Regions from separate parts of the Homo sapiens genome. Here region 2 is linked to region 1. The links come from fine-mapping of genetic effects on gene expression. A gene starts in region 1. The other region holds a variant in brackets. All regions are shown on one strand. Distances are between the middles of the regions.

Region 1 (5,374 bases):
CTGTCGCCTTTGTGAGACAATTACCATTGTTTCCCCATTTTGTAGATTTTACTTAAGGCACCGAAAGATCCCTCTCTTCCGAGAGCTAAGAATAATATTGGTAATATTAATAGCTATGGTTTGGGAGTACTTGCTAAGGGCTTGACATTCTCAGTCCAATTAACGATCTTAAAAAATTTGATTTTTAAAAAAATTCCTTTTTATAAAGGCTCAGAAATTTTAGTAACTTACTTAAAGGTATACAACTAAAAACTGTAGAACTGGGATTTGCCCTGTAGGTTTGTTTGGGACTTAAACCCAGATTTCTGCTTCACTGATCTCTTTAGTAAATTCCTGGCCTTCCTGTTCAGTACTTAAGTTACAAAATACAGACCAGATCAGTGGCCATTCCCTTTGGAAAGGGAGGACCCCCTTTGAGTACCTAATGAAAGCTGTGGGTCCTCTCCCAAACATTCGCCTATGTGGACCCTCTCCCGAACATTCGCCTATGTGGACCCTCTCCCGAACATTCGCCTATGTGGACCCTCTCCCGAACATTCGCCTATGTGGACCCTCTCCCAAACATTCGCGTATGTACAGAAGGTTGCCTCCCAGTTCATGAGCGTTTCTGGGCCCCTGTGAGGCCCATTCTTTGCTTTGGATCTATCAGTAGCGACACTGGAGGAAGGAGATGACTGAGACTTGAATCTGGGAGGACAGAAAGGCTTAAAAGATAGAACATGGGTCTCTCCCTGCTCTGCAGCACTGCCTAGCACCCCCTAGCACCCCCGACGCTTCCCCACAACCACCCCCTGAGCTCAGGATTGTTATTGTCATCACTGTTTCACACATGAAGAAACTGAAGCCCAAAAGAGGTTAAGTCACTGGCCCAAGCCCAGGACTTCAACTTGGCGGCCCAAATCCAGACTCATGATCCCAGCCGCCAGGCTACACATAGCCTCTGTCCTCCTCTCCAGGGAAAACCACCGACCAAAAAAGCCAAAGTCCTGCACAAGGCTGCCTGGTCTGCCAAAATTGGAGCCTTCCTCCACTCTCAAGGGACAGGACAGCTGGCAGATGGGACACCAACAGGACAAGACGGTAAGATAGCAGAGGGCCCTGCTTAGGAAGCTGCCGTGGCTGGGGAGGAGACTGGGTTTGGGGTGGCCTTTCCTAGGAATGAAGACTGGGCAAACCGGCCAGGTAGAAAGTGCCCTAAGTCAGGGTCACTGCGGATTGCATCTTCCTCACCTGTTGGGTATTGTGGAAATTACCCAGAAAAATGCCTTCAAACACCCTTAAATTATCAGGACTCCTACCCATGATAATTCAAAAGCCAAGAATTGGCTGTTTTTGTTTCTCTTTGCTTTTATCCTTTTGGTTTCTGTTTCCCTGGGGCAACGAAGGCCCAGATATGGTTTGAAGGCAGGTTTGGAGAGGGGTGGTGGGATAAGGAAAGGAGCCTCTCTCTGAGTGTGTAGCAATTGCTAAGCAAGTTAAATGTATGCATAAAGCAACTCTGCTATCATTGTTCTGAGTTTCTAACTGAAATTGAGCTCAGCAGGCCGGAGCTCAGTTGGAGGGGCCCTGGTGTGTGCGCACCCCCTCCCCCACATTTAGATTGGGTGTGGCCAATCAGGTTCAGGGCGGAGGGAGGAATTTAAGCCCAGGGATATTTCAGTTTTCCCCTTTGGGGGAAGAAGGGCGAGAAATTTCCCTTTGAATGTTCCTCTACTCCTGAGAGTCTTGCCACCTTTCAATTCAGTCCTCAACAGTGGTCCCTCATGGCCACTGGTGGATCAGGTATGGGAGTGAAGGAGGGTGTCGTGGGCAGCGCTGTGAGAGGGGCTGCTGGGGGTGGGGGACCTACCTCTGCAGGTCCCACAGGGCCCTTGGGGTCCAGGCTCCTGGAGTGGCTGCTGCGCAGGCTCCTAGTCTGACTCGTCCTCTCTGCTCTGCAGCTCTGGTCTTGGGCTTCGACTGGGGGAAGTTCCTGAAGGATCACAGTTACAAGGCTGCTCCCGTCAGCTGTTTCAAGCACGTGAGTGCCCTGGAGCTGAGGGAGGGAGGCCGGGGAGCCGGGCCTGGAGCTGCTCCTCCACCTGCTTCACCAGGGCGGCTTCAGGCTGGACAGTGACAGTGGGGAGGTCTGGGCAGGAGACGGATGGCGTTACCACTCGCTCCATTTCATGTTTATGTCAAAAAAATCCTCCTACAAACACTTCTATCACCTGCTTGGCTTCACTCCCGGTCTGAAGCCCTTCAGTTTATTTACATGATGGAACTTGGTGCTAGCTGATGTCGAAGGGTCTTTGCAGTCTGAAACCCTTCTCTCCTTTCTCCCCCATTTGCAGCATTTTCCCATGGAAAGCAGGGTGCTTCTGTAGCTGGCCTGGGCCCCGTGGGCCCCGAGAGGCAGATGTGGATGCTCCTGGAGCCACTTCTGTAAAAGGCTCCTCGATGCGGATCATGTAAAAGCCAGAACGAAGGGCAAGGCCCTTAGGGGCGGGGCTTGAGCGCAAGAACCGAATATCCAGCAGCTGTGACGTGTGGAGCCTGCAGGCCGGGAGAGCAGAGCCCACAACAGCACTCTTGTTTTGTCTTCACACCACGTCCCTAAGCTCCGGGAAATCCAGGAGGAGGCCTCTTTAGTCTTGAGGAAGTAGGGAGTCTTTTACCCAGAGTAAGCCACTTCCTCTCCTCCTTTCAGAACTGCCACTGAACTCTGGGGAGTGCCCTGAACAATGACAGCTGCTTCTTGACTCAGCTAACTCACTCCTCTCGTCTCTGAATGGCTAATGAAGGTGCACCTCCTTCCTGCTGGAGGGGGAGCCTCTTTTTTGCCCTGAATTCTCTAATAGTTTCAGCATTTTCATTTCCAGGGAGTTGCATCATCCTTGTGTCTAACACATATAATCCAATTTGCTTTGTAAAAAGCCTGCCCCTGCGTGCCTGGGCTAGCGCAACTGTGTCCGGGTTCTGTGATGAACTAAACTCAAGTGACCAGGGAGATGGAATGGGATACCTCAACTGGCTGAAGCCAGGGCTGAGAATAAAAAAGGTGAATTTGGCCAGGCGCAGTGGCTTACCCCTATAATCCCAGCACTTTGGGAGGCCGAGGCGGGTGGATCACCTGAGGTGAGGAGTTCGAGACCAGCCTGGCCAACATGGTGAAACCCCATCTCTACTAAAAATACAAAAATTAGCTGGAAGTGGTGGCAGGCACCTGTAATCCCAGCTACTTGGGAGGCCGAGACAGGAGAATCCCTTGAACCTGAGAGGCGGAGGTTGTAATGAGCTGAGATTGCGCCACTGCACTCCAGCCTGGGTGACGGAGCAAGACTCTAAAAAAAGTGATTCTCCCAAAGGAGAATCAAAAGTACCATTGGCAGGAAAGTGAGGATTAGGTACTGGGAAGGCAACTGAAACAGTCCAGTGCTGTCCTGGGGCACTTTATTTTATTTTATTTATTTTTTCGATATGGGAGTTTCACTCTTGTTGCCCAGAGCTGGAGTGCAATGGCACTATCTCAGCTCACAGCAGCCTCCCCCTCCCAGGTTCAAGCGATTCTCCTGCCTCAGCCTCCGGAGTAGCTGGGATTACAGGCATGTGCCACCACCACGCCCGGCTAATTTTGTATTTTTAGTAGAGACATGGATTCTCCATGTTGGTCAGGCTGGTCTCGAACTCCCAGCCTCAGGTGATCCGCCCGTCTCGGCCTCCCAAAGTGCTGGGATTACAGGCGTGAGCCACCATGCCTGGCCCCCTGGAGCATTTCAGTAGGAGGGGAGGTAGAGAGTAAACTTGCAGGTGGATGGCTGTGTGTAAACAAGGGGGTCATAATGCCCACAGCCCAGGTTTGTATGATGATTGAAGGAAAGTATATTTGTGCTAATATCAGCGCCCTGCCATTGCTCGGGCTGGCACAGGGACGAAGGGATCGAGGCTCACCAAGGCATCATGTGCCCAAAATGATACAGTAAGAAACCAGTCCTATAAAGATTTTAGGACTCGGTTCTGTCTGACTCTGGGTCTCTAGCCATCACCCTGCATCCCACCACCTCCACCTCTACTCCCGGCTTAGCTCTTCAAGGACAGGAGACCTCATCTCTTTATCTCTAGTAGCTGGTTCTGCACACAGTGGGTGATGTGAAAAGTTGAGGTGCAAACGAGGACTTGACTGAGGCCGTGAGGCAGTCTGTCTCCCCTGCTAGCACAGTTAGCTCACTCTCTCGGTACACTCTCATCGCCACACAGGTCCCACTCTATGACCAGTGGGAGGATGTGATGAAAGGGATGAAGGTGGAGGTGCTCAACAGTGATGCTGTGCTCCCCAGCCGGGTGTACTGGATCGCCTCTGTCATCCAGACAGCAGGTGAGTGTTTGGCCAGGGCAGGGCCAGGGATGTGTCTGCAGAGTGACATCTCTAGATGGGTGAACAGTGTTGTAGGCAGGAGTTGGCTTCATAAAACAAAAATCCCACCCACTGGAATTTTTGCCCCACTTCTAAGGATTCTTTTACCGGAGAAGGGAACACAGAGCTTGGCAGGCTTGGAAACCCCAAATTTTTTTGTTTGTTTTTGTTATTTTGTTTTTTTTAGATGGTGTCTTGCTCTGTCACCCAGGCTGGAGTACGGTGGCACGATCTCGGCTCACTGCAACCTCCACCTCCTGGGTTCAAGCGATTCTCCTGCCTCAGCCTCCCGAATAGCTGGGACTACAGGCCACCTGGCCACCACACACGGCTAATGTTTGTATTTTTAGTAGAGACGGGGTTTCACTATCTTGGCCAGGCTGGTCTCAAACTCCTGACCTCAGGTGATCCTCTGCATCCCAAAGTGCTGGGATTATAGGCGTGAGCCACCGTGCCTGGCTGGAAACCCCAATTTTTAAAGTTTGTTCCAGGGCCAGGTTTCGTGGCTCACACCTCTAATCCCAGCACTTTGGAGGCAGAGGCAGGAGGATTGTTTGAGCTCAGGAGTTCGAGACCAGACGGGGCAATATAGTGAGATACTGTCTCTATAAAAAATGAAAAAATTTAAAAAGTAAAATTCATTCCAAGGATGATCAGGTTATAGAGAATTAACTCTCAGCACCATTCCATAATGCTTTCCGAACTAGGAGCATGAATTTGTTTGGCTAGGACTGTTGTGGACAACAGGAATCCACTTGCCTGGAAGTATAGGTGCCAGAAGTCCAGCTTAGGCTAGAGAAAAGAGAAGGCTTAAGAACATACCTTCCCCAAGCTAGGCCCGGTGGCTCACGCCTGTAATCCCAGCACTTTGGGAGGCCGAGGAGGGCAGATCACGAGGTCGGGAGATCGAGACCATCCTGGCTAACACGGTGAAACCCCGTCTCTATTTAAAATACAAAAAAAAATCAGCCGGGCGTGGTG
Region 2 (5,374 bases), 44 kb before region 1:
TTTAAACAAAAGTCTTGCTTGTTCTACCTCTTGCATGTAATTCCTAAAAATGCTAATTTGATTGCTTTTATTTTGTATATTCAAAATTTTTCAATATAAGAAAAACCAGGTTTTGAAGAGCGGTAGATCAAGAAATCCCTGTTTTAAACATGTAACCAAAATTTTATTTTATTTATTTTTGGGGGGAGGGTGGGGATAGAGTTGGGGTATCGCCATGCTGCCCAGGCTGGACTTGAACTCTTGGCCTCAAGCATTCCAAAGTGCTGGGATTACAGGCATGAGCCACTGTGCCCGGCCTTAAAATATATCTTTTTGTTTTGGTTTTTTGTTGGTTTGGTTTGGGTTGGTTAGGGTTTTAGGGGTGTGGGTGTTTTGTTTTCAGAAAGGGTCACTCTCTGTCACCCAGGCTAGGGTGCAGTGGCATGATACCCGCTCATTGCAACCTGTGCCTCCCAGGCTCAAGCCATCCTCCCATCTCAGCTTCCTGAGTTGCTGGGACTAGGTGCACACTACGAGAGCTAGCTGATTTTTGTATATTTTTTGTAGAGACAGGATGTCACCATGTTGCCCAGGCTGGTCTCAAACTCCTGAGCTCAAGTGATCTGCCCACCTCAGCCTCCCAAAGTGCTAGGATTATAGGCATGAGCCACATCACCCAGCCAAAAATATATTCTCCCTTTTTTTTTTTTGGACGGAGTTTCAGGCTGGAGTGCAATGGTGCAGTCTCCTGGGTTCAAGTGATGGTCCTACCTCAGCCTCCCGAGTAGCTGGGATTACAGGCATGCACCACCAAGCCAGGCTAATTTTTTCTATTTTTAGTAGAGACGGGGTTTCTCCACATTGGTCAGGCTGGTCTCGAACTCCTGACCTCAGGTGATCCACCTGCCTCGGCCTCCCAAAGTGCTGGGATTACAGGTGTGAGTCACTGCACCTGGCCAAAAATATATTCTTAATTAACAGTATTATGTTATTCATAAATATAGGTTGTCTCATGATACAGACTTGTCTTCCTCAATTTAGTAGTTCAACTAAATAAAGAAGTTTTCCTAAGCAGCCCAGCAAATCATTCTGCAGCAGATACTATTTCCAGTATTTGTAGTTTTGGTCATTTTGAACAAAGCTGTCAGTAAAAGCTGCTGAAATTCCAAGGATGGGTGTGAGGAGGGCATGCTTCATACCACATATTCTGTGATAAGGAGTGGTAGGGGCCATGGCATGCATGATGGTGCTACCACCCTGACGTTGATCCTGGCAGGATAATTGCCACTTGGTTATATAAAGGCAGATAAGCTCCCTGTTTTTGTGGGTAGAAGAAATAGAAAACCGGAAATATTGACTTTAGGCCAGGCCTTTTCACTATTTATTTTTCTAAATACTCCCTGGCTTACGGCTTAGGTATAAAGTCTCTGCCAGCTTTCAAGACATTTTAAGCTTTCATGTTTCTTGTCAGCCATGATTATTCTGTATAATCAATGCTTTAAAAGAACATAGAAATTCCTATATGTACATGCATGTTTTCACAGGATATTTTTAAACAAGCTACTGAAGATAGATTAACAAGTGCAAAGGAATTGCCTTATTTCGAGGGTGATTTCTGGCCCAATGTTCTGGAAGAAAGCATTAAGGAACTGGAACAGGAGGAAGAAGAGAGAAAACGAGAGGAAAACACCAGCAATGAAAGCACAGATGTAAGGGCATTGAGTTTCCTTTGAAACTTCTATCATGATTCTAATATTTAATCCAGAAGTGCACTTAAACTTTCAATTGGGTTTTAAAGCTTTCAGGTGTAAAAGAGCTCTTTAAGTTGGACAAGAAATATTGGCTTAGAGAGGTTATTAGGGTTCTGTTTCAGTGGTATTAAACTTTTAAAGCATCAGAGCCCCTTTTAAAATGGCATCTCAGACTTTGAGTAATGTGAAATGATAAAAGAAACTGAAGGAAATCCTGAAAAACTGATAGAAGATTACTTATCTGAAGGACTAGGTTATGAATATTATAGGCCTTGTGGGTCACATATCTCTGGCATATTTTCTGTCTTTTAAAAACACACTCTTTTTAAATGTAAAAAACCATTCTTAGCTATACAAAATAGGCCTGAGCCAGAATTTAAGTTACTAAGCCTGGCTTAGTAACCTCACCAGTTATTTCCCCATAGCATATCTCGAATTACCTCCATTGAATTTAACTTAACAAAAGGCACCCTTAAATAGTCTGTTAACAAACTCTTACAGCCTTGTCATTTAGTATTTGTAGGCTCATAACATTTTAGAATATGAGTGGAAGGAAATAAAACCAAGGTCTTCTGGCTCCCCACTTTGATACACTCTTCACTACCCCAAAGTGCCACCCCTTCCTTGTTCCCTAGCCCCAATCTGGGATACATTCAATCAATCTACAGGGTCTGCACATTCTGTGGCCTCTTCTAGGCAAAAAGCTAAAGGGCTGCCATTGCCTTAAAGATCACTGGGAGAAAATTAGGTCAAATAACAACTTTAAGGAGAAAGAATAAGTGAAGAGAACAGCTAGTAAAATAAGTTACAGGCATAAGATTATGATATCTAGTTTCAAAGAAGGGAGATATTCTGTGCTATTCCCAAATTACTTAACAAAAACCTTATTTTCTTGTCTCCTTTGTGCTACTCTGCAGGTGACCAAGGGAGACAGCAAAAATGCTAAAAAGAAGAATAATAAGAAAACCAGCAAAAATAAGAGCAGCCTGAGTAGGGGCAACAAGAAGAAACCCGGGATGCCCAATGTATCTAACGACCTCTCACAGAAACTATATGCCACCATGGAGAAGCATAAAGAGGTAAGATGCAGCCACCCAGAGTTGGGGAAAAACGGCAAGATTTCTGGCCAGGCATGGTGGCTCACACCTGTAATCCCAGCACTTTGGGAGGCCAAGGCGGGTGGATCACCTGAGGTCAGGAGTTCAAGACCAGCCTGACCAACACGGTGAAACCTTGCTCTACTAAAAATACAAAATTAGCTGGGCATGGTGGCACATGCCTGTAATCCCAGCTACTCAGGAGGCTGAGGCAGGAGAATTGCTTGAACCTGAGAAGCGGAGATTGCAGTGAGCCGAGGTCAC[T/C]CCATTGCACTCCAGCCTGGGCAACAAGAGCGAAACTCCACCTCAGAAAAAGAAATAAGAAATGAATAAAAACACTGACTGTTCGCTGGGCGTGGTGGCTCATGCCTGTAATCCCAGCACTTTGGAGGTTGAGGCAGGCGGATCACTTGAGGTCAGGAGTTGGAGACCAGCCTGGCCAACATGGCGAACCGAAACCCCGTCTCTACTAAAAATACAAAAATTAGCCTGGCGTGGTGGCACACACCTGTAATCCTTGGGATGCTGGGGTGGGAGGATCACTTGAACCTGGGAGGCAGAGGTTGCAGTGCACTTACAGCCTGGGTGACAGAACGAGACTCTGTTTCAAAAAATAAAAAGATTTAACCTTTCTGAAAGTGAATTAGTAAATAGAATTGGAGAAAAGTTAAACTTCCACATATGGACTTACAACCCCCTTCTCAAAACTTTTTGAGTTATTTCATCATTTACATTGTTTAGTTGTTCTTGCAGTCATTTGGGAAAATAACTGGGTAAGGTTTTTTTTTTCTCTCTTTAATATCATATAATTGATAACGAAAGCCAGGAGAATTGAAGAGTAATTCCTCTCAGGGTTTGTCCAATGGTAGTAATCTCGATTGTTCAGTCAGACTCCTCATTTTACTATCTCGGTTCTCAGACATATAATCAAGTTCTTATAGGAAGTGGTAATTAAGTTGAGAGGGAAATGAAGGCTTGATTTCAGGTTGTAATTCCGTACCTAAAAATTGGTTAAACAGTCTCTTTGGGAGAGAAATAGTTAACAAAATCTTTTTTAGAGAGGAATTTGTTATAATGATGTTATCATGGTGAACACCTATATACATAGGTGTTCAAAGTATCTTTTCCCCCACTGCTCCCCCCATCACCACCCCTTTTTTGTTAGCCTAGAATAATGGGCTACGATGTAATAATGGTAATAACCATTATCTCAGCCATGCTAGTGAAATGGAAGGATTCCTGAGTTCTAATACGTTAGGTAATGATTATTAACAATTAATAGTTACTAGCTATTTCAAGCAGTAAGTAATGCCACAGAATCCTAGGCAGTTGGGAAAAGCCCTTAGAATATATTGTAATAGGTTTGACTTAAATTGTGGACACATTCCATGGCTGTTTAAATTTAGGTTGTAAATCCAAGTATTGGCCTGGTTGTAGGGTGACAGAAGCAGCGAACATTGCTGGCCAGAGACTGTGAGTGTGGCTGCCAGTGTGCACAGATGTTGAATAATCTGTTATCAGTACAGCAGTTTCTCACAAGTTCCTAATTTCTTAAGGGGATGTTTTACATTTTATTACTTTAATAGGTGTTTATAGTTATATACTAATTAATGTCAAATACATATGTAATACCAGCTTTTTATACCTTTTACACTAATGGTTATGAGAATTGATGGTTGTTACAAGTTTTTTCAAACTTCAATGAACAAGAATTTTATTGCTTTGTCAACAAAGACTAAGATTTTTTATCCATTCCATTCCCTTCCAAACCTGTAGGAAAAGTTACACAGGAAAGTTGCATAGGGGACCTTCATGAGTCCAGGCCAGTTGTTTTTCATACTGTCTCCATATTTGGATTTGTCTGGTTTGTTGTAATTAGATTGAGGTTAAACCATGGATTGCATCTTAAAGTAGACTGCCTTGAGGCAAAATGTCCACTGTGCATGGTGCTATACCTCACCCAGACCATTGTTACTCTGAAGGAGTTACTGAATGAAGGAGAAAAAAATCACAGGATGTGCATTTCAGTTCTATTTATAGTCAGTCTCAAGAGACCAAAGAGGTAAAGCAGGAAAAGGAACAGGAGGCGTATGGTGGTGAAACTAACTCAGCATTCGCCAGTCTCATTGGTGCTCAGCCTGCTGTACCTGCTCACACCTGTAATCCCAGCACTCTGGGAGGCTGAGGCAGGCAGATCACTTGAGCTTAGGAGTTTGAGACCAGCCTGGGCAACATGGCGAAGCCTCGTCTCTACAAAAAATGCAGAAATTAGCCAGGTGTGGTGGTGTGGGCCTGTGGTCTCAGCTATTCAGGAGGCCATGGTGGGATAATTGCTTGAGCCCAGGAGGCAGAGGTTGTAGTGAGCCAAGATCACGCCACTGCATTCCAGCCTGGATGACAGAGCGAGGCCCTGTCTCAAAAAAAAGAGACTGTCTGTTTTTCAGGTCTTCTTTGTGATCCGCCTCATTGCTGGCCCTGCTGCCAACTCCCTGCCTCCCATTGTTGATCCTGATCCTCTCATCCCCTGCGATCTGATGGATGGTCGGG

Alleles and levels. Alleles are on the strand shown, and positions count from the first base shown. SD is a standard deviation of normalised expression in the study named.
For the expression in esophagus mucosa of the gene that starts at base 2,445 in region 1, allele C in region 2 goes with a higher level than allele T (moderate effect, 0.69 SD a copy in GTEx).

What was found. PIP is the estimated chance that this variant, and not a neighbour inherited with it, causes the effect.
Region 2: its variant is the best candidate, but not a certain one, in a credible set for the expression of L3MBTL2-AS1 in esophagus mucosa (GTEx, PIP 0.68).

The regions. Positions count from the first base shown.
Region 1 is chr22:41,215,183-41,220,556 of GRCh38, forward strand. It overlaps L3MBTL2-AS1 (L3MBTL2 antisense RNA 1), which reads right to left and starts at 2,445. Exons shown (of 3, transcript NR_148200.1): 1 at 1,850-2,445. L3MBTL2 (L3MBTL histone methyl-lysine binding protein 2) reads left to right here. Exons shown (of 17, transcript NM_031488.5): 4 at 957-1,080; 5 at 1,941-2,020; 6 at 4,237-4,354. RefSeq lists enhancers at 2,619-3,316, 3,317-4,013.
Region 2 is chr22:41,170,976-41,176,349 of GRCh38, forward strand. EP300 (EP300 lysine acetyltransferase) reads left to right here. Exons shown (of 31, transcript NM_001429.4): 28 at 1,524-1,688; 29 at 2,648-2,809; 30 at 5,272-5,374. Among named protein-coding and RNA genes, the nearest start is that of EP300-AS1, 24 kb to the right of the region's middle. The variant T/C (reference allele first, on the strand shown) is at 3,092.